Linked DNA regions of Homo sapiens. The protein of the gene in region 4 purifies or fractionates together with the protein of the main gene of each other region. This does not show direct contact. Each region holds a gene or a part of one and is shown on either strand. Other genes may lie near its edges.

Region 1 (4,205 bases), on a different chromosome or scaffold from region 4:
CCATATATTTTAAGTCATCTCTAGACTGCTTATACCTAATACAATGTAAATGATATGTGTAAATAGTTGTTATGCTGTATTGTTTTTAGATCTGTATTATTTTTATTGTTGTATGATTGTTTTAATTAGTATTTCCAGTCCATGGTTGGTTGAATCCACAGACGTGGAAATCAAATGATATGGAGGGCCTACAGTATACAGTCACAGATAAAGGGAAAATAAAAAACAATATAAACGAGCTGTAGTAATAATATATATTTAAAAATAAAACTAATTTCAAATTAGTAACATATTATTAAAGGAAATAACATCCTTCAAATATTCTTGCAGCGGCGCTAAAATAAATACACTTTCATCTTCTAAAACCCAGAGGTATTCCCCTCCTGCCACCAAAGTATTCAGAAGCAAGAGGTAATCCCTTCTACCAATAAACTAAGATTTTCTTCTGTGAATTTTTAAATGGTCTGAAAAGTGGTTTGATTATATACAAATGTGTAACTACACACACACACACACACACAGACACACCCATACACACACACAAGAGGTTCATGAATCAAGCAATCAGCCAGACCAACCTCTTTGCCTGCCTGGTTCCAGTCTACCCTTCATCACTACTTTCAGACATTGTGCACTCAAATTCAAGTCAAACGCAACACTAGACTCAGGTCAGTCCAACAAACATTTATTAAAGACCCTACTAATGTCAGGCTAATCCAGGCAGGATACAGCAATGAATCAGACAATGAATAAGCAATGAGTAAGACACAATATCTGCCCTCTAGGAACCTGTCAGGAACCCCCACCTGCATAACCCTTCTTATTCCAAAACCTAGGTCAAATGACAGTCTTCCTAAAGATTTTCCTGTGATACCTAGAATGAAAAGTCACTTTTCATAGCCCTAAAGTCCATCTATTACTTTCTAGTTGTTTTAGGGTTGCTTTGAGGCTCATGCTGATATCTAATTGATTCTTTTAGTATGCCCCACAAAGCCTAGCTTAGTGCTGAAGCCATAATAGGCATGAAATAAACATCTGTTGAATGAACAAGCATCAGTCCTGTTTACGTGTTTCAGGTGTATTAGATAGACATGGCCTGAACTGAAATATGGAACGGCTTTCACATTCTATAGAACAAAACCTTTACATAACCTTTCCTACCAGTTTTTAATATTCTATAGATATATTCCCCAAGACAGATTTTTTTTTGCTATTGAAGTGAAAATGTTTAAAGATTGAAGATTATTAAATAAGACAGCACTTGTTGATATACACAGAAGGTATTTGACATTTATAAGCCATTACTATTTCTCTTACTATTTCCTCTCTACAAACTAGCTGACAGAGGAAAAAGTTGGTAGAATAGGTTTTTTTAAAGTTTCCAGCCAAAATCATATTTTATAGGTTTATAGGGTGGGGGAAGGAGAGAGAGCAAATATTTTAAGAAAAAGGCAAAGAAAGCAAGCAAATGGAAGTAAATGGAGTATGAGTGGCTATGCAAAGGAGATACTGGTTAGAGGCAGCTCTCTAGCTTCCAACTTATTATAGTCATTATGGAATGGTGACATAAACAGATATCTTGATACCTCTCACTCATCCTCCTTAACTAATAGCAATAACGTCTGTAATACAATGTTGAACACAACAATTTCTACCAACAAAAGGGAATGTAAGATATTTAAGTATTTATACCATGACAATTTCCCTAAGATTTGAATACACAAGAAATAACTATAATAACCGTAATATAAGGTGGTAGTCCCATAAGACAATATCCAGAATGGGTAGTCTGGAGGCATGGGGTTGATAGGAATTGGTCAACAGAGGGCATTCTGGGCAGTGGTATCAATGTAGGGAAGTATTTTGGAGTTTACAGTAAAGTTATATCATCTCAAAGCAACTCTACCTTTTGTCAGGGCAGGGCCAATATCATAAGCCTTCATAAATCTCACCAAACATAACAGTGCTTCCCAAATAATAGACACAAAATTATTGTATTTTTAAAACAAAACTGAATTCCTACAGCAGTTTCACGGCCTTTCATTTACTTTTGGAGAAGCAATTCAGTTTACATTAATAATGAATTTTCTTTGTCAACCTCCTCTAGACAAGCACCCTCCAAAAAATGTGAAGTAAAATTAAAGTCAATATTATAGACAGTCCCAGCTTCTTGAGAGCTTAAGGAAGGACGATTGTGGAGCACAGAGTTCAAGACTGGCCTGAGAATATAGCAAGACCCCATCTCTAAAAATATACATATATATTACAGATATGGTCTAACCAGTAGACTATGAGACCCAATTCCTTTGTTACAGATAAATCTATTAATGTGGCCTAAGATTTCACCAATTATTTAGGCAGTCACATTACCAAGCTATCAATCAAGTAAATTCACCAGAAATTACCTGTAGGTCTTTTCTTCCCCATCCTTTTACCATTTTACTTGACAAAAATGTTTAACCCAAGTAGTAAAACTTAACTTTATAATTTTGGTTTCAGCTTTAGACTTTCTTGAGCTGTTATCCAGATCACCTAACCTATCACCATCTACAAAGGCCTTCAGAACCCTAAAGATACACTTGCTAATTAGTAATCAATACTCTGGGTAATGCAATCAACTATTAATGCAATTGGGCAAAACATGCATGATCACCTACAAGCATTGTCTTGGTCAGTGAAAACAAAGATGAATCCAGCCTTTCTACACTCAAGGACAATCTAGTCACTTACAATGTAAATTTAAGTGCTATATAAAGTGTTATGAAGCCAAGATAATAAAGTATTAAAAGGTTAACACTGAGGATAATACATAAATTATCCACCTAATCTATCACTCAACCCACATTTTTCAGTTTCTTCCAAAAAGATATAAGCTTTGTCAAATGCATTTAGTTAATAATATGATGAAGACCGGGCACGGTGGCTCACGCCTGTAAACCCAGCACTTTGAGAGGCCGAGGCGGGCGGATCACAATGTCAGGAGTTCAAGACCAGCCTGGCCAACGTGGTGAAAACCTGTTTCTACTAAAAATACAAAAATTAGTCGGGCATGGTGGTGTGCACCTGAAATCCCAGCTACTCGGGGGGCTGAGGTGGGAGAATGGCTTGAACCAGGGAGGCTGAGGTTGCAGTGACCCGAGATCGCACCACTGCACTCCAGGCTAGGCAACAGAAGAGACTCCATCTCAAAAATAATAATAATATAAATAATATGATGAAAATAACAATGGCTTTTAAATTACACATTCTTAAACTAAGGGCCAAAGATTATATCGACCAAGAAATTAAGGCATAAAAAAGATTTATATGCACTTATAAATTAAATCAGATATTTGAATCCATCTTCTAACTACCAGACTTGTCCAGCATTTTCCTTGGGTAGCAAATTTTTCAGTAAATCATATGAATGTGAGGTGCTCAGCCATATATTTTTTTCATATTTATACACACATTCACAACCCATACACAGATTTTTTCTGTCGAACTTTAACTAGGTCCTCAAAAACTAAAAACCTATTTCTTAATAAGTAAAACTTATTTACTAAACATAGGTCTTTTCCAATCTCTAATGTCCCTATCTGTTAAAAAAAAGCTAGTAATTTCAAAATCTGTGCTTTGTGAAATTATTAATTCATATTTGGCTATCTGATCCATCCATTCTTGCTATGTAATAAAGAAATGAACACAATAAGCAATGCCTAAGATGTTACCACGCATCCTGAAGAAGTGAAGACAGTATCATCTCTTTCCTTGGTATTACCCAGAATACAATGCAAAACTGTGACTGTAGTATATATTCACTAACTTATTTACTCATTTGGAACACTAGAAATCCCTGTAAGCACAGCTCAAATTTATTACAAGTTAATTCATATCCCCTAACAACTACGCAACCAAAGTCTGACACGATCCACTCAGCACATCACTACAAAAGTCCCCCAAAGTCAGTATTAGAGCCGTTCTATTGAATTCCTTTTTTTCTCAAATTTAACATAAGACTTAAGAAGCATTAAAATAGCAATAAAAATTCCAATGATTGTTACAAGAAACAGACTCAGGTTTAAGTGCATGGCTACATATCATTTTTCTGTAACAACATATTCTCAATAATTAACTCTTTGGGACAGTAATGTGATTCTAAATATGAAATAATAGGAGAACTGGTTTCTAAATCCAAAATTTCGAGAGAATTTCCCAACCTCAAA
Region 2 (4,205 bases), on a different chromosome or scaffold from region 4:
GGCCTTACAGAGTCTATTCAATGTTGTGGTTAAACTATTAAACAAAATTGTAATGATGGTACCATGCCTAGTTAAAAGCAAAAGCTTACAGCAACAAGCATTTATTAAGCACTTACTACATGCTCAGCATTTTTAGCAAATAGTTTTCACCTGCAATATTCTTCTGTGAAAACAACCCACTCCCCAGAAACGTACAGGTTCATTTTGAAGATGAGACAAGCAAACATCCTGAAATGTACAGTCCCACATGATAATGAATTATACCACCCCAAAAACCTATATAGTGCCCTCATGGAAAAACACTGGGTTAGGTCAATGTAGGATATTAAACAAAACAATTCAAAACAAAACATGACATATAACATAGTTCCAGGCACACGATTTACATACCTAATATGATTAGAGGATTCATCCAAACATTTATACGTCAGGTCCTATGTTAGATGACAGAGAATACAATGAAAAGACAAAGATGCTTATTTAAAGAAGCTCAGAATCTAGCAGGATGACAGACATGTCAACAACTGTAACATAGTACATAGTGCTCTGGGAACAAAGAATGCCCATATACCTGAGAAAACTAAATTGAGCCAATAACCTTATGGATGAGTTTTTCTTGATGGGCAAGAAAAGAAATACAGAAAGAGCCAGCCAATGCAAAGTTACAGGGACTAGAGGAATAAAGTATGAGAAACATCAGTAAGATGCTTAGATTGCATCAGTAGCTTGAACAGAGTTCTCTCAACTGTTTAAAGTAACCCAATAACAAGGTCAGGTCACATTTTATAAAATATCAAGAGGGCAAGTTTTGTAGAGGATGGATTGGGAATCCAAGAATAAAGGCAAGAGGCTGCTGCAACTGCTGTACACAATAAAACACAAGAGCTTAAAATGAGCATTACTGGTAAGGATGGAGAAAAGGAGACAGAGCTGATAGGACTGACTGAACATGAAGTATAAAGGGGGAGGAATCTAGGATTATCATGTATATGGTTAGTGCCGTTAAACAAGACAGGGAATACAGGAGGAACAGGTTTCAGGGTAAGAGGTGAAGATGAGCTTAGTTTTAGACATACAGAGTGCAAGATGCTTACAAAGCATCTGGGTAGAGCTCTTTTGAAGGCAGATAGACATGCATATTGATTCCACTGAAATCAGAGAGGGTCTGCTTTGAGATAAAGACTTTAGAAATAGCAGCTTACAGGTAACAATTAAAACTTTGGGTATATGGTACTTAAGGAGAGCATAAAAAAGTGGCAAGAGTAAAGGACACTTCCTTGAAGAAAATCAACATAAAATGGGACAAAAGAACCTAAAAAGTCCAATAAAAAGACCTAGAAACATCAAAGAAGCAGGTAGAAAACCAGGACAAAATGTGTTCAAGAAAGAGGAAATTTTAGGAAAGGAATGGCCAAATGCTATAATTAGGTCAAAGACATCCCAAATCCTGAATATGACTCTATATGGTGGATGTGTTTAAACACAAAAAATGTTTTGAAAGAAAAAATTTAAGTCGCTTAATTTTTAATAGAAGTATCCTTTGCTCATCAGGCCCATCTCAAACATTTGTGGGGCAATGTTTGAGCAAGAATACAATGGAGGTCTACAAGCCATTTATCTAAATATTTAAAATTAGAAATCAAGTTCATGATGAATAAAATATGGTCTGTAACCCTACTCGACAAATATACCTTATGACCTGGAAGGACAGGTTCAAATTTAAAATGCTCAGACTCCATGGAGTTCCACACTGAAGCATGGCAGCAACACAAGAGTTAGCCCTGGGCTCTTTTTTCTCCTCTTCCCACCCCGTTTCATTCCATTTTGGGTGTAGGGGGAGGTAAAGGTGCAAGAAGGAAGGAAAGGGTATGGATGCAGGCTCTGTTCAAACCCTTAGCGTACACTGTTCTCTTGGCTACCTCAGACATATTGGTAGCACAATGGACAGAGATGGGCATGGTGGAGAGGCCTTTGTAGGCAGATAAACCAGGGTCAGAATGTTGTAGGAAGAGATGTTGCAAAATCTGGGTGGGTACATCCCCTTGGCTTCAGTGACTCCTTACCTGAGGGGAGACAGCAGTCTGGAGAAGACACATGTATCGCAGGGCCTAGACCAGGATACCCCCTGTCCAGCTCTAAGAGCAGCACTACTGCTCATTTCCGATGTTATATATGATGGGTAGGTACCCCATGTTCACAGATAAGTCCAGTTATCCACGCAAGTATCAAAAATATAGTATTAAATATACTATCAAAGCTAACTACCAGCACACACATTTCATAACTTTCCCAGGTTTATGAATTCTGATATCACCACTCAAAACACTTTCCACTAGAAGAAAAAGTTGGGGAAGAGAAAGCAGGATTGAAAAAGGGGCTAAGTGAAGAAAGTGAGTTCTTCTTACATATTGATATCTATATTCACCAGAAAATTTACATTATTTTCTTATTTAACCACCAGAAGAATCCAACAAAGAATAACTGCACTTCCACAGTACAGATAAAGACCAGGGTTGCTATTTAAGGATCATGTAACAAAAAAGATAGGAAGATTCACACCCAAGTCTATCTCACTGCAAGGTCTCAGCTGATCTGCCCGCCCCGGCCTCCCAAAGTGCTGGGATTACAGGCGTGAGCTCTAAACATTAATTTTTATTAAACCGGGCTATTAAGTTAGCAGTTTGGAAGAGCAATAGTTTTAGATTCTAGAATCAAGCTGGGAAAATGGATGTGAAAGGAAAGTGTTGGGTCACTGATTTGCAGACAGCATGAGCAAGAGAAATTTACTTATCTCACAAATACATATTAGCAGATTTTTAAAAAATCTGTAAACACATGAGAAATTCTTTCTTCTCTCCTACATTACAAAAATGTGTTTCCAGAAGTTAATGAAAAGGAGATAAAAATGGTGGAAAAATGTACTTTAAAAATAAAGATCCATGTCTATGAAATCTTTACAAGTGAGAGGTCTAAAGAACCTGAAAAAAAAAGGGGCTACATTTTTTTCAAATGAGTTGCCAATGGATAAACTCATTTTAAAATTCGTATGAAAGAATAAATGCCTAAGAACAACCAGGAAAAATAGAAAAGGTATACCATTTTGGGGAAAAGACTTGCCTTGAGACTTTAATGTACAGTCAAGCACAGAATTAATGACATTTAGGTCAATGAGGGACCACATATGACAGTAATCCTGTAAGGTTATAATACCATATTTTTACTCTATCTTTTCTATGTTCAGACACAAATCATTACTAATGTGTTACAACTGCCTACAGTATTCAGTACAGTAACATGCTGTATAAGTTAGAAGCCTTGGATCAATAGGCTATACCATATAGCCTAGGTGTGTAGTAGGCTGTAATATCTAGGTTTGTGTAAGTACACTCTATGATATTTGCACAATGACTAAATCGCCTAACGACACATTTCTCAGATTGTATCCACATCACTAAACAATGTATGACTATGACTGTAGGATAATAGTGGTATTTCAGTTGGATAAATGATGCTGGTGTAAGCAGCTATTCATTTAAAAGAAAACAAACTTAGTCTGGGCATGGTGGCTCACGTGTGTAATCCTAGCACTTTGGGAGGCCAAGGCAGGCGGATTGTGAGGCCACCCTGGGTGACACGGCGAAATCCCGTCTCTACAAAAAATACAAAAATTAGCTAGGTGTGGTGTCATGCGCCTGTAGTCCCAGCTACTTAGGAGGATGAGGCAGGTGGATGGCTTGAACCCAGGAGGCAGAGGCCGCAGTGAGCCAAGATCACACCATTGTATTCCTGCCTGGGCAACAGAGTGAGAACTTTAAGATATATAAAATAAATTCATATGACATAGACTATAAAAATAAAATAATTACAAATGATCTAGGAAAAACATGCAGAATCCAGTGGCAGGGGAGACCTTATAACCATATTTTTAAAAAGCTAGCAACATATCTAGCAATATTAAACTCTATATATACATGTAAGTTAAAAATTGGTGCATGGCAAAACATAACTGAAATATCACCAATTATCTGCAATGCAGACAAAAGGTATCTCATAAATTGACAAGAAAAAGACAACCAATAAAGCAAATAATTTCAATAGGGAAGTCATAGAAGTGCAAACCCAAACAGCTAACAAGTATACAAAAGATACTCTCCAGTAGCGAGGGAAACAATGTAACAATAAGATATCACTTTATACTTATCAGA
Region 3 (4,995 bases), about 28 Mb from region 4:
GGAGCAATGGAGCAAATCCTAAATTAGTTTTAATCTTAGATTCCAGGGGTCTCGCCCACAGTGTTTTACTTATAAAAGAAAAGCTGAAAGTGTCCACCCTCCAAACAATGTTTTCATAGAATCATTTGCTCAGTTAACTGCTTCCCAGCATTTTAGGTCCTCCCTTTACTCCAATGTTTGAAAACATCTGACAGAATTGATAGAGACCTCCAATTCCTACTTAACCCCCCTCGCACACACACAACAAATAGCAGTTACTCAACTGTATAATGCCATCGCAACAGTAAATGTTAGACTGTCCTGATAGAAATGAATTTCCTACCAGGAGGTTTATAACAAATATTCTCCCTCTACAGCATTATTTAAAGAGCATCACTGTTATAAACTCAATTACATTTTTAAAAAATTAAGCGTAAACATTCAATTTACATGTAAATGACATAGCTAATACATGTGGAGACCCATTTGTGTTACAAAATTCTCTCTGCATTTCTTGCTTTCATGAAACCCTTTTATATTAAACATTTTTAAAATTACAATGCAATTGACTCTTCCCAACACAATCCAGTTCAACTAAATTTTCCCAGCACAGAAGAGACCAAGACATTAGAGGACAAAATAACAGGTAAAATCCTGAGAGTAAGATAAATCTCTACAATAATTTTTCTTTAAATCCTCGGAGGCTTGAGACCTCTCTAGTTCATTTTTCCTGACAACACGAGCTAAGTTGGGGCATCAGTGGAGCCCAAAATGAGGCCGACAGCACCAAAACAAATTCATCAACAATGTTTTAATACTTTCTATATACCTGCCATGTAACCCAGGCATAAGAGAGACTGGAAAGGTACTGGAGAAAGTCCTTGTGCTGAGGCATTTGCTTGAGGTAGCAAGTCTAACCCCTGTAAAGCCAGCAGATACTTGAATTGTGAGTGAGGAGCAAGTCTTCCTGACTCTGATCTATGCTATAGAGTTCACACTGGGCGTATCCATGTCCCCAACATAACATGTACCTGGAAACTAGACCATAAAATGAATTCTCAAAGTAACATGAGAACACACGCATAAACTATTAAATCCATTTGAGCACATCTAAAATTCACTAAACATACTCTATAGCACAGTTATTAGGGCTACTCTAAAGATCAAATGAACCAATATACATAAAGTACTTAGCTCAAGAAATAACTCAGGTAAAACATGGTTGTGGCAGGAACAGTAAAAATTATTCTAACGAGGCCCCAAACTTTGAACTGTCACTGTCTCTTGTAAACCTGGGCCACATGCTAGCGCTCATCTCACATACCATCTTTTCTGCAGCTACTAAATTTTACAATCTTATGAATCTGAACAGGATAACTCATTTTCAAAAGGACCCCACCTTCTCCGTAAGTTGCTAAATGAGAAAATAAACATTGAGAACTAGATATCAAGTTAAAAACAGAAATGTCCATTGTGCTTTCTGCTTAGTATTTGACAAAAGCAGTATGTGAATTTGGCACCTAGTATTTCATGTAAACTCTTGTTGAGCAAATGTTTTGCATGGTGCATACAACTATCAATCTTAATACACAAAATCCACAAAGACCTGACTTAACCCTCATTTGTGTTTCAGAAGAATCTAGCATTGGGCCAAACTCACCATATGTCCCCCCAAAGTGTAGCCAGAGTTCATCACAGTGTTTTGTGCTGATGTCCATTTATTTTAAAGACTGAGTTACCATACTTCAGAGTTAGAAACTATTGAAAATGGAAACTTTTCCTATTCGACAATTTCAAATCAAATCCAAGTAATGGCATTCGTGTCTGCACCATCAATCGCACCATCGGCCCCACTGCACAGCTACCAACTGGCTCCTATGAAAAAGTCTCTTCCCCTCGTGTTCCTCACTCTCGCCAGGGCCACTTTTAATCTGTTCATCCAAAGGCAGCCTTTAGCAAGGAGCTGCAGAAAATCAGCCCACCGTGCTGCTCTTTGTAGCTTTCTCCAAAGCTCCTCTTACCAATGCCCCTACCCATGTTCATTTATCCAGTATAAGTCACTGGTCCAAACACTAAACTAAACTAAAATAAAATAAACCACCGACTATGTAAAAACAAAGCCAAGTAGTTATAAAAATTATTATTTTCAAGAGAATGAAGAAGCACCTACATTAAAGAAATGTAAGTCAATGGTAAGTACACAATAAAGCCACATCACAAAAGTTCTGTACCTTACAACAATCACTGATCAGTCTAGACAGTTTGTGCTCGAGCTCTTAAATACACAACAAAGAGTGCCAGGGAGTTTCAGGGGATTATCTCCACCAGAAATATGTGATACATTACACAGAGGCTCCCTTACCTCAGCTGCATATTTATCCAAAGAATCAAAAAATCATACACTTGATATCAAGGGAAACATAAATTAAGTACAAGAATTTCCCCCCTCTTCAAAGGACTTCTTTTGAAAAGCACAGAAGAAGTGAATTCACTTAAAACCCCAATCATAAATAAATAAGACATGCTAAGATCACATAATACTGTCCTAGAGTTACAAAAGTCTGAGGTATTTAAACAACCTGGTATAGAGTAGAGTTTAACTCATGCCTATTACGCTGTTTCACACTCTAATTTCTTCACACAAAAGAACGAAGGACCTAAAACACACACATGGACACACACACACACACACACACACAGACACACAGGGACATATACACATATGGAAACATATGCACACAATAGGTAGTAGAGAGAAAAGGAACTACTTACTTTTCTTCTTAAAAAGTTTAATTAAAGACTTAATCTTTGCATTAATGAAGACCACCATTTCCAGGGCACCTACATAGAGCTTAGAAATGTAAATCACATTAAAAGCTCAGCCCAGTAGGCAGGTGGCAAGCTTCGTCCTTCTGCTACAGATTCTAACTTTTTCTTCCCCCGGTCTCATATCCTTAGACATCTGCCCAGGCTGATGTAACTGAGGTTGAGTTTATTGTCAGGCAGTTACAAACCATTAACAGTCCTTGAACCTGAAAAACTCCTACTGAAACCTAATCTTTAAGGCTGAGAGCAGCCAGTGACATCGTGCGCTGAAAGAAAGAGAAAGCCAATCACGGTTCTTATTTGCATGACAGCCACATCAGGCTTTCTGCCTCAGTGCCCATTCATTCAGTTTTCTCTCCAACAGATCAGAAGTTCCTCCTCTCTGAGCCCACAAAAATAGTGCAGACTTTCCTCTACGGAAGTCAAGATGAAACAAATGTGTTCCCCATTTCATTAGGCCCCTATGAACACCCAGATCTTTTACAGGAGCTGCCAAGTCTGACAGCAATTCCAGTTAATTCAGGGTATATGGGATTTGAACTGATTTAGGGGGGAAAAAAACCAAACTATTGTTTCCCAACCACGCCCCAGGCTCTGCCTCCGATACCAAAGGAACTTGTACAAGCAGTAAAACTTTAGAATAGAATCTCCAAGGAGCTGCAAATGATGACTTGGTTGCATTTTTGTGCAAATTAGGATGCTCTGTCTTCTCACCCTTCTTTGCCAGTGATTGAGAATCAGCATTGTGTGTTCCAAAGCATGATCTTATTTGCATCTAGCTGCCACAACAATCAAGAAAAAAAAAAATCCACCAAAAAAAATACAACTTCCCCACTCCAAATGATAAATTAGATAAAGTACCCTAATCATTTTAATCTTTATTTTATATGTAATTGTCACTTAGGCTCCTGGTTTTCAGAATTCCATAATCGCCCTTCCCTCAATGTTGTCTCAAACAAACATTATCTGAGTTACTCTTTAACTTGAATCTACCATCCAGAGTGCTGGTTCTTTTGCCCATTGGCAATTAACCACAGAGAACTAGGGAAGCACAAGTAGAGACAGAGAAATCAGAAACAGAGTATAAGAAGGCACTGAAAAAACATATTCCAGGGGTAAAGGGATAGGAAAAAAGAGGAGAATATAGATCCGGAAATACTATGACAACGGAAAAAGGAAAAGAATCTTCCTCACATCTCAGCCCAGTTCCACTTCATGGCCAAACACTTTTGAAACAATTTAGACAACCTCTTATTTCATAGCTTTGGGCCAGACTTATAACTCAATGGAAAAATGTAATAATCCACTAATTCAAAACATTTAGTTTATAACAAAGGCTCTTAGTCAAAGAATAAAATTTATATAAGGGGCTCTGTCTAGGGAAAGCTTTGAAATGATTCCTTCTCAGGTCTTTTTATGCCCTTTATTTTTTCAACAACAACAAAACAAAAGAACACATAGGGGAAAGCTTTGAAATGATTCCTTCTCAGGTCTTTTTATGCCCTTTATTTTTTCAACAACAACAAAACAAAAGAACACATAGAAACGTTACCATCTTATCATACATATTATCACAGATTTCCAATTTGTGTTATTTCATTTTATATATAGCTTTATTTTAAAGTAATTAAATTGCCAGATGGCAAATGAGAAACGACTGAGCCTGTAAGTCAGATTATGTGGCTGCCTTAAATTAGCGGGCAAAGTTCCCCTTTGGAAAACAAATTTATCTGCAAGAGTGACCTCGCTCTGCTCATTGCATTAGACACAAGGAGAGTTGTGGGCAAAAACACTCATATGCACAATCCACAAGTGTTTGAGGTTAAGTGTCACCATGCAAATGTCCAGTGAAAACAGAAATTGTTCTTTCAAGAAACTCTGATTATGCTCAACCCTCCATAGCATGTAGCTTTCCATGTGCTCAACAATGGCATCTGAATATAGATTCGTTCATCAGAAAGATAAATACCAGGCACCGATGCTAACTGCTACTCTTTCATTTCATTGGGATACATCATTGGACAAAATAGGTGAGATCCCTGCCCTCATGGAGCTTAAATTATTTGACACTGAACTACAATTTTGTGGTATATTAGAAGGAGTTGAGTGCAACAGACAAAATAAAAAAGTTAAGCAACATAAAAGGGGGTTTGAGGGTGGCCAGGCTGCAGCATCGTAGGAGTCAGGGTG
Region 4 (4,205 bases):
AGACAAACAGCCAAATCATGAGTGAACTCCCATTCACAATTACTACAAAGAGAATAAAATACCTAGGAATCCAACTTACAAGGGATGTGAAGGACCTCTTCAAGGAGAACTACAAACCACTGCTCAACGAAATAAAAGAGGACACAAACAAATGGAAGAACATTCCATGTTCATGGATAGGAAGAATCAATACCGTGAAAATGGCCATACTACCCAAGGTAATTTATAGATTCAATGCTATCCCCATCAAGCTACCAATGACTTTCTTCACAGAATTGGAAAAAACTACTTTAAAGTTCATATGGAACAAAAAAAGAGCCTGCATAGCCAAGACAATCCTAAGCCAAAAGAACAAAGCTGGAGGCATCACGCTACATGACTTCAAACTACACTACAAGGCTACAGTAACCAAAACAGCATGGTACTGGTACCAAAACAGAGATATAGACCAATGGAACAGAACAGAGCCCTCAGAAATAACACCACACATCTACAACCATCTGATCTTTGACAAACCTGACAAAAACAAGAAATGGGGAAAGGATTCCCTATTTAATAAATGGTGCTGGGAAAACTGGCTAGCCATATGAAGAAAGCTGAAACTAGATCCCTTCTTTACACCGTATACAAAAATTAACTCAAGATGGATTAAAGATTTAAATGTAAGACCTAACACCATAAAAACCCTAGAAGAAAACCTAGGCAATACCATTCAGGACATAGGCATGGGCAAACACTTCATGACTAAAACACCAAAAGCAATGGCAAGAAAGCCAAAATAGACACATGGGATCTAAATAAACTAAAGAGCCTCTGCACAGCAAAAGCAACTACCATCAGAGTGAACAGGCAACCTACAGAATGGGAGAAAATCCTTGCAATCTACCCATCTGACAAAGGCTTAATATCCAGAATCTACAAAGAACTTAAACAAATTTATAAGAAAAAAAACAACCCGATCAAAAAGTGGACAAAGGATATGAACAGGCACTTCCCAAAAGAAGACATTTACACAGCCAACAGACATATGAAAAAATGCTCATCATCCCTGGTCATCAGAGAAATGCAAATCAAAACCACAAGGAGATACCATCTCATGCCAGTTAGAATGGTGATCATTAAAAAGTCAGGAAACAACAGATGCTGGAGAGGATGTGGAGAAATAGGAACACTTTTACACTATTGGTGAGAGTGTAAGTCAGTTCAACCATTGTGGAAGACAGTGTGGCAATTCCTCAAGGATCTAGAACTAGAAATACCATTTGATCCAGCGATCCCATTACTGGGTACATACCCAAAGGATTATAAATCATGCTACTATAAAGACAAATGCACATGTATGTTTATTGTGGCACTATTTACAATAGTAAAGACTTGGAACCAACCCAAATGTCCATCAATGATAGACTGGATTAAGAAAATGTGGTACATATACACCATGGAATACTATGTAGCCATAAAAAAGGATGAGTTCATGTCCTTTGCAGGGACATGTATAAAGCTGGAAACCATCATTCTAAAAAAACTATCACAAGGTTGGAAAACCAAACACCAGATGTTCTCACTCCTAGGTGGGAATTGAACAACATGAACACATGGACACATGGTGGGGAACATCACATACCCGGGTCTGTCGGAGGGTCGGGGGCTGGGGGAGGGATAGCATTAGGAAAAAATACCTAATGTAAATGACGAGTTGATGGGTGCAGCAAACCACCATGGCACATGTATACCTATGTAACAAACCTGCACACTATGCACATGTACCATAGAACTTAAAGTATCATAATAAATAAGAAAGAAAGTAAAGAAGCAGATCTCCGATTTTAAAAAATGGAATCCAAAAAAAAAAAAAAGAAGACATAGAAGAAGTGGTGTCAGAAAACAAATTGACATTAGAGAATCTGGCAAAAGCGTTCCAATTATTCAAGACTACTTTTGATTTATTTTACAACGTGAACCCTTCTATGATACAGTACCAAAACTAAAGCAAATAAAAGGAGGATTGGTACCATATAAAAACATTTTTAGAGAAATGAAGAAGCAAAAAAGTCAGAAATCAAGATGTGTTTTTGTAAAGTTACACCAGTGTGCCCACCTCTACTACTTCTACCTCCTCCACCTCTCTGCCTCTGCTACTCCTGAGACAGCAAGACAAACTCCTCCTTTTCCTTCTCCTCTTTGGTCTGCTCAATGTGAAGATAACGAGGATGAAGACTTTTATGATGATCCACTTCCAATTAATGAACAGTAAGTATATTTTTTCTTATGGTTTTCTTAATAACATATTCTTTTCTCTAGCTTACCTTATTGTAGGAATACAGTATACTACTACACATACAACATAAAATATACATGTTAAGCAACAGTTTATGTTCTCGGTAAGGCTTCTGGTCAATAGTAGGCTATAGGCAGTTAAGTTTTGGGGGAGTCAAAAGTTATATGCAAATTTCTGGCTTCACTGAGGATCTGTGCCCCTTACCCCTACACTGTTCAAGGGCCAACTGTATTTTAAACTTTAAACCCTATCTAAAGTCACCCAGCCATGACAAAGTGGGGAAAAAAAAAGAGATACCCTGGGAAGCCTGCTTTTAAACCTTGTTCTACTACTTTCTGTTAAATGATTTGTGTCTAAAATGGAAATTACTTGCTTTATCTATATCTGTCCACCTGATGAGGGTTAGAGAAGATTATGATGTAAAGGTATATGCAAATAATATGCCTGTCAATCTGAAAGCATTTATATGTAGACTGTAGCATTTATATATAATCAGCATTTATATATAATCAGCATTTATATTAGCTAGAAATAAATTTTAGGCCAAGTAGCAGAACCCAAGATTCATCAAAGACCTAGAAGATTATCTGTCCCAGGGATGCCCAAGATATAGATTCAGAAATTTAGGAGATCTTTTACACCCTCTTGTTACAACTTCTGAAAAAAAAAAATCATAAATCTAAAATCACTGTATTCCTCTAGTTGTGTAAGTTCTTATTACTGAAAAGAGTAAGCCAAAATAACTTGAAGAAGATCCCTGCCATTACTGAATTTTGAGCAGAGGGAGAACCAGACATTTAAGCAAATATTTAAAGCAATTTAATAGATAAGTCCTAATATTTGTTCTATTCACTGTGAGACCTTGGTATCAATTTCCTTATCTGTAAAATAGGAATAAAAACATCTGTCTCTAAAAGAAGCAAGAAAAGAGCCTTGAAGTGCACCTCATACAGAGGAGCCCAATAACAGGCAGCTCTTAATATAAGGTAAGAGCAACACAGCAGAGATAGAAGCACCTCACTTTCAGGTGTCAAAAGTTATTTGGTGATCAAGATACTTCCAGAGACAGTTTCTCTGGCAGATAAGGGAAGCATCCCAAATGGAAGAAAAAGCAGGTATAAAGTTACTCATTTATTCAACAATTGGTAGGGATACAAATGCTAGGTGTAGATACAGAGATGGAAAAGACTAATCTTGGCAATAAGAACTGACTATATTCCATAAGAGAAAAGCCAGGGGAAGAGATCCCTTAGGTATTCAGAATCCCAGTGGTTGTTAATGAAAGGAGTTAGCTAGCTTGCTTTAGGCAGACAGTAAGGGAAGGGTCCCCAGAGAACCTCTGACCCACCCCACAAGGGCTTACACCAGATGCTTTGTGCAGATAAGGGAACTTGCACAGGGGGCTTGCTTAAACATGCCCACAGCAGACTAAGGGCCTGCATGTGCACTAGGGAAATGTGGTGAAGCCACCAGTAATCTGTGCCTCATACAAATAGGGAACCCAGCCCCATCAGCGTCTCTCTCTCTCTCTCTCTCTCTCTCCTCTCTCTCCTCTCTCTCCTCTCTCTCTCTCTCTCTCTCTCTCTCTCTCTCTCTCTCTATATATATATATATATATATATATATATATATATGCCCTTGTATTCAACTGTGACGGGGCAACCTGGAACCTGCTTTCAGGACCCCTCTCTTGGCTGAGAGCTTTCCTTTCACTTAATAAATTCTACTCCATTCACTCTTAGAGTATCTGTGTGCCTAATTCTTCCTCATCGTGAGACAAGAACCTGGACCTAGCTCAGCTAAGGAGTAAAAAACCTTGCATCATTAAGAAAGCAATAAAATGAGAAAGAGGAAATTGATATAAAGTGAATTATAGGTTTGTGGTAATTACCTAATACAAAACAGAATTATGTTCTACTAGGAAAAA
Region 5 (4,205 bases), on a different chromosome or scaffold from region 4:
CCAGGGCAATGCATTTTACACACCACCAAGTATTGAATGAGAAAAGTAATGGTGATTAAAAGTCATTAATGGATTGAAAACAGAGTTTCTAATCTTGAGTCTTAGGCTTCAGAACGTTAGGTAATATGTGATAATGTGTATTTTTTGAAGTGTCCTTGGTTTCTTCATATTTTCAACAGGGTCCATGACACATCAAAAGGTGAACTCTGAGTATATTTGTTTGTGGGCTTGATGGTAGTCACTGATAGGTTTCAATGTGCTATATATTCATTTTATTTCACTTTTCTTTTTAGAAAGTCAAGTTTTATGAGATCCTGGTAACTCTTATTACTAATACTAAAAGGAAACTCTTACATGAAATAAAATATGTATGTTAAAATGAAAATGATTTAATAAACTTCTGGTGTCCTTCCTAATTTTTTGGTTTTCATCTTTGAAGGGTGTTTGTTGAATATTTTACTTTTTCTATCTAGTTTTGTGTTTATTTGACACATGAAGAAATAGAAAGGCTAGTCAACTTTTCTAACTCCTGAAAATGTCGATCTTAGACTGTCTTTGGGTTCAACTCTCTTGAGACTGGACCTTTATTTTACTTAATAATATAACCATAGAGTGATAGGTTCTCATTTTCAAGGTGATATTAGTCCTCGAGAGCACCCATTCCTTAACACACTTGTGGACCTCTGGATGGTGCTGAGGCAGTGTGTCAAAGGGCAGCGTACACCCCATGGTGGCCTGGCAGCAGTGGTTGCTACAAGCCTCTCACTTGGCTAATGTGTGCTGTGTCTGTGGCTGCCTTAGCCTTGGGAAACCCAGGCAGGAGGAAGGGAAAAAAGGCTGCTCAAGGGTCTCTTTATATTGCTGTGAGTCATTAATATGCAGGCCTAATGAGACTTGAGAACTGCCAAGAATCCCCGGAGGTCTCTGCCCCTTGCGGGCCTTCACGCTAAGTGAACAGAGCATCTATTTAGTGTCTGGGAACCTGACAACAAACCAGATCTTGCCAGAAGTTTATATGTGCGTACAAAGTCCCTTTCATTTTTGCCCTATATATGGCATATGATTTATTGTTATCTTTAAAAACTGTACATTTAGCATTGCTCATTCCTGTTCTTTTTCAGAGTTTCTAATTTAACTGTCAACCTTTTAAAACTTTTAAAACAAAATGTTTAATGTTTTAAAGAGTATCTGTTGCATGTTTCTTTGGATGCATTTTACTCCTTTCCCACCCCACACGCCCCGCTTTGTTTTTCCTGTAGCACTTCAATCTCAATGAACATTTCAATTAGTTTAGTCCCTCAGACATAATGACCCATAATAACCTAACTGAAGAAAGAGAAATGAATAAACATCTGCAAAAGAGCCAAATTTGGAAGATAGATGAGAACATATTCTTATCAGTGCATCTTCCCAGTAGCTACTTTATTTCACAGTCACTCAGTGTTACCATTTCTGTAATGTTTCTTTCAAATTATTGGAGATGTCAAAGCATTTAAAAGAATACTAAAATGTTAAAATGTGTTGTGGAAAACATTTCAGCCAGGCAGTTTTTGTTTTTATCAAAATGTTAAAATTTTTTTGTATCTTTAAGTTCTTAAACATGTAAAAGTGTTACAGAATTAACAATCCTTTTATGTATCTTATTAGTAGTTACACGGCAGCCACAACATACTGGGCACAATAATAGCTATTTTAGGATTGTAATAAAGCACTTATGTTAAGAAGTGATTGCACCTTTGTGTGCTGAATTGCAATCAGATTTAATGTCTAATTTTATTGTAAGAATAATTTTGAAGTGTTTTCTTTTTTAAGTATAAAACCTCAAATGCAGAGAATTAAAATGCATTTGCTTAAAGACTTTTTTCAATCCATACTGCTGTTATGTACTATAAACCTCACATCAGGCAGCTAGACTATTTCCAAAAATTTAAGCCCATTTCAGATAAATCTGTTTTATTTCATTGTAAAGCCAGATATTAATGATTTTCCAATTTTGCAAAATTAGGTAATATTACTCATAGCATAGCTTTCTAAGTTCAGGATAGGAAAAAAACCTTGTGTTATAATAAGCAAATCTCACTTAACTAGGTTTTAGTAGGGAAAAGTTAGATTATCAAGCAAAACTAACATTGGAAAGATAGAGACTCCGAATTCTCTCTTTCAGTTTGTACCATATTCCACACTATAGTGTACAGACTATTTAGCTTAGTGCTTCACCTGTTTAAACTTCCTTTTTCTTTATTCCTATTTCTTTTTCTACATTAACATTATTCTGTATTATTTATTTAGATATGCCTTCTATTTATTCTTTTATGAATAGTTTTCTTTTTTTGTTCTATCTTCCACCCCCTCCTTCTTGCTTTTCTTTTTTCTAAGCCATTTGCCGTCACCAATGTTGTTCATAGAAGGGCTTTAAACACGAAGGCAGCTGCACAGAGAATCACATAAGCTTTTTCAGTTTTCCACTGCACCTGGCTCCATGTGTGAAATTCTTCGCCTTGACCACTGCTCTGTGGCACTTTCTTTCTATAGCCTTGTCAAGGTGCTTCCCGTTTTTTTCAGTGAACTATTGATGTATTGGTTAGATATGGCAGTAGTCCAAGGAGAAGTGGCAAATGCAGACATAAACCATCACAAGAGGAAAAACTGATTAATCACAGCTTAAACAGCCAAAGAATTGGACTTTAAAGAAATATATTTTCAACTTTATTATATCATTAAAGCATAATTATTTCTTCTATTTTAGGATACAGATAGAATATTTTAAATTGTATATTCTTAAACATTTTAATATTATTTGAGGTATATCTAAAGTGATCTGTTTAGTAGTGAGAGGTTGCTTTTCCCGTTATAAAATACCTACATTGTCAATAATGCTAAGCTTAATTATAGATTTATTTTTAATACCTTGTGCCTTTAAAAAAATATGTTGAAGAGATAATCCTAATAAGTGATTGAATTACTTGTTAGACATTCTCTGAAAATTGTCAAATTTCTCTTCAATAATTTTTTCTTTCAGTTATAGGAGAACTTATCTTCCAAATATGTTTAGTTTCTAACTAATTATAGATATAATGCATGGTCAAAATTTGGCTATGAATTTTAAAAATAAAGTGATTTGATTGGTCAATAATTTCAAATTAGTAGATAAAATATACCATTGAAATGCATTAAGCCAGTGCATTACTACAGTGTCAGCAATAGAATTCTTGGTTTATTATAAACACAAATACCTATTTCCAAACTCCATTAAGAATTTAGATAATTGCCAAGTTTGATTTTGGGTTTATATATAAAATGGATTTACACCAGTATTTATAAAACCTTATTCACTGGTGAAACTTTGAGCTGCAACTTGAAAATGTGCAGAGATTTATAACTGGAGGCAATATAGAAGATGAAATATTGAGAGGAAATGGTGAAAAATATATACATTTTGAAAGATTATTGGTAGGGAGAAAATTTTGATGGGCATATTTTGATTTTTTTCATGAGTGAGTTATGTTAATAACTATCTGCTTCAAAACCATGTTTTTCTAAAACATACTGCAATTTTTGTGGTTACAATTAATGTATTTTAAGTCGTTAAAAGAGGACTAGAAATCTCAAAAAATGAAAAGTTTTATATCTTCTTTAAAATTAATTTATCATATTTGGAAAAAAATAAACGCTTTGAATGAAAGCTTGTTGCACAAAAAGAAATGTTCACGCAATATTGTATTATGACAGTCACCGAAAAAGTAGCACAAATTGAATTCTAAAATTTTTGAAATCACAATTTGGTCTCAATGGAAATATCCACTGCCTGTGAGTGTACAGGACAAGTTACTTGCCAGTTGAAAACCATGTACTTTAAAATTTGTCTAAATATATCTTTGCATAACAGGCAGTCTATCACATCAGCTATCATCCCTTGCAGAACAGATTATTTCTGAAAAGTGGAAAAAATAAATAACTAGAAAAAGAGATTGCAAGTAAAAGGTATATGTTGAAACATTTATTAGATATTACCAAAATTTCAAAACTGAGGTTTGGAATAATAGACATTGGAGACTCTGAAAGGTGGGAAGACTGAAGCCAGGTGAGGGATGTGAAATTATCTAATGAGTACAATTTACATTATTCAGGTGATGGTTACACTAAAAATCCAGACTACACCACCATAACAAAATTGCACTTGTATCCCTAAAGTCTATTTAATTGTT

Evidence for each region.
Region 1: the proteins of WASF1 (region 4) and FNBP1L fractionate together in Homo sapiens (co-fractionation; one large-scale study listed by BioGRID). This does not show direct contact.
Region 2: the proteins of WASF1 (region 4) and ZC3H15 fractionate together in Homo sapiens (co-fractionation; one large-scale study listed by BioGRID). This does not show direct contact.
Region 3: the proteins of WASF1 (region 4) and NHSL1 purify together in Homo sapiens (affinity purification with mass spectrometry; one large-scale study listed by BioGRID and IntAct). This does not show direct contact.
Region 5: the proteins of WASF1 (region 4) and PCDH10 purify together in Homo sapiens (pull-down; one large-scale study listed by IntAct). This does not show direct contact.

The regions. Positions count from the first base shown.
Region 1 is NC_000001.11:93,450,653-93,454,857, reverse strand, and holds part of FNBP1L (formin-binding protein 1-like), read right to left. Parts: intron 1-4,205. UniProt on the Homo sapiens protein: Required to coordinate membrane tubulation with reorganization of the actin cytoskeleton during endocytosis. May bind to lipids such as phosphatidylinositol 4,5-bisphosphate and phosphatidylserine and promote membrane invagination and the formation of tubules.
Region 2 is NC_000002.12:186,495,848-186,500,052, reverse strand, and holds part of ZC3H15 (zinc finger CCCH domain-containing protein 15), read right to left. Parts: intron 1-4,205. UniProt on the Homo sapiens protein: Protects DRG1 from proteolytic degradation. Stimulates DRG1 GTPase activity likely by increasing the affinity for the potassium ions.
Region 3 is NC_000006.12:138,496,482-138,501,476, forward strand, and holds the start of NHSL1 (NHS-like protein 1), read right to left. Parts: upstream 3,014-4,995; 5' UTR 2,810-3,013; coding exon 2,752-2,809; intron 2,264-2,751; exon of another isoform or gene 816-2,263; coding exon of another isoform or gene 809-815; intron 1-808.
Region 4 is NC_000006.12:110,120,398-110,124,602, forward strand, and holds part of WASF1 (actin-binding protein WASF1), read right to left. Parts: intron 1-4,205.
Region 5 is NC_000004.12:133,155,476-133,159,680, forward strand, and holds part of PCDH10 (protocadherin-10 isoform 1 precursor), read left to right. Parts: intron 1-4,205.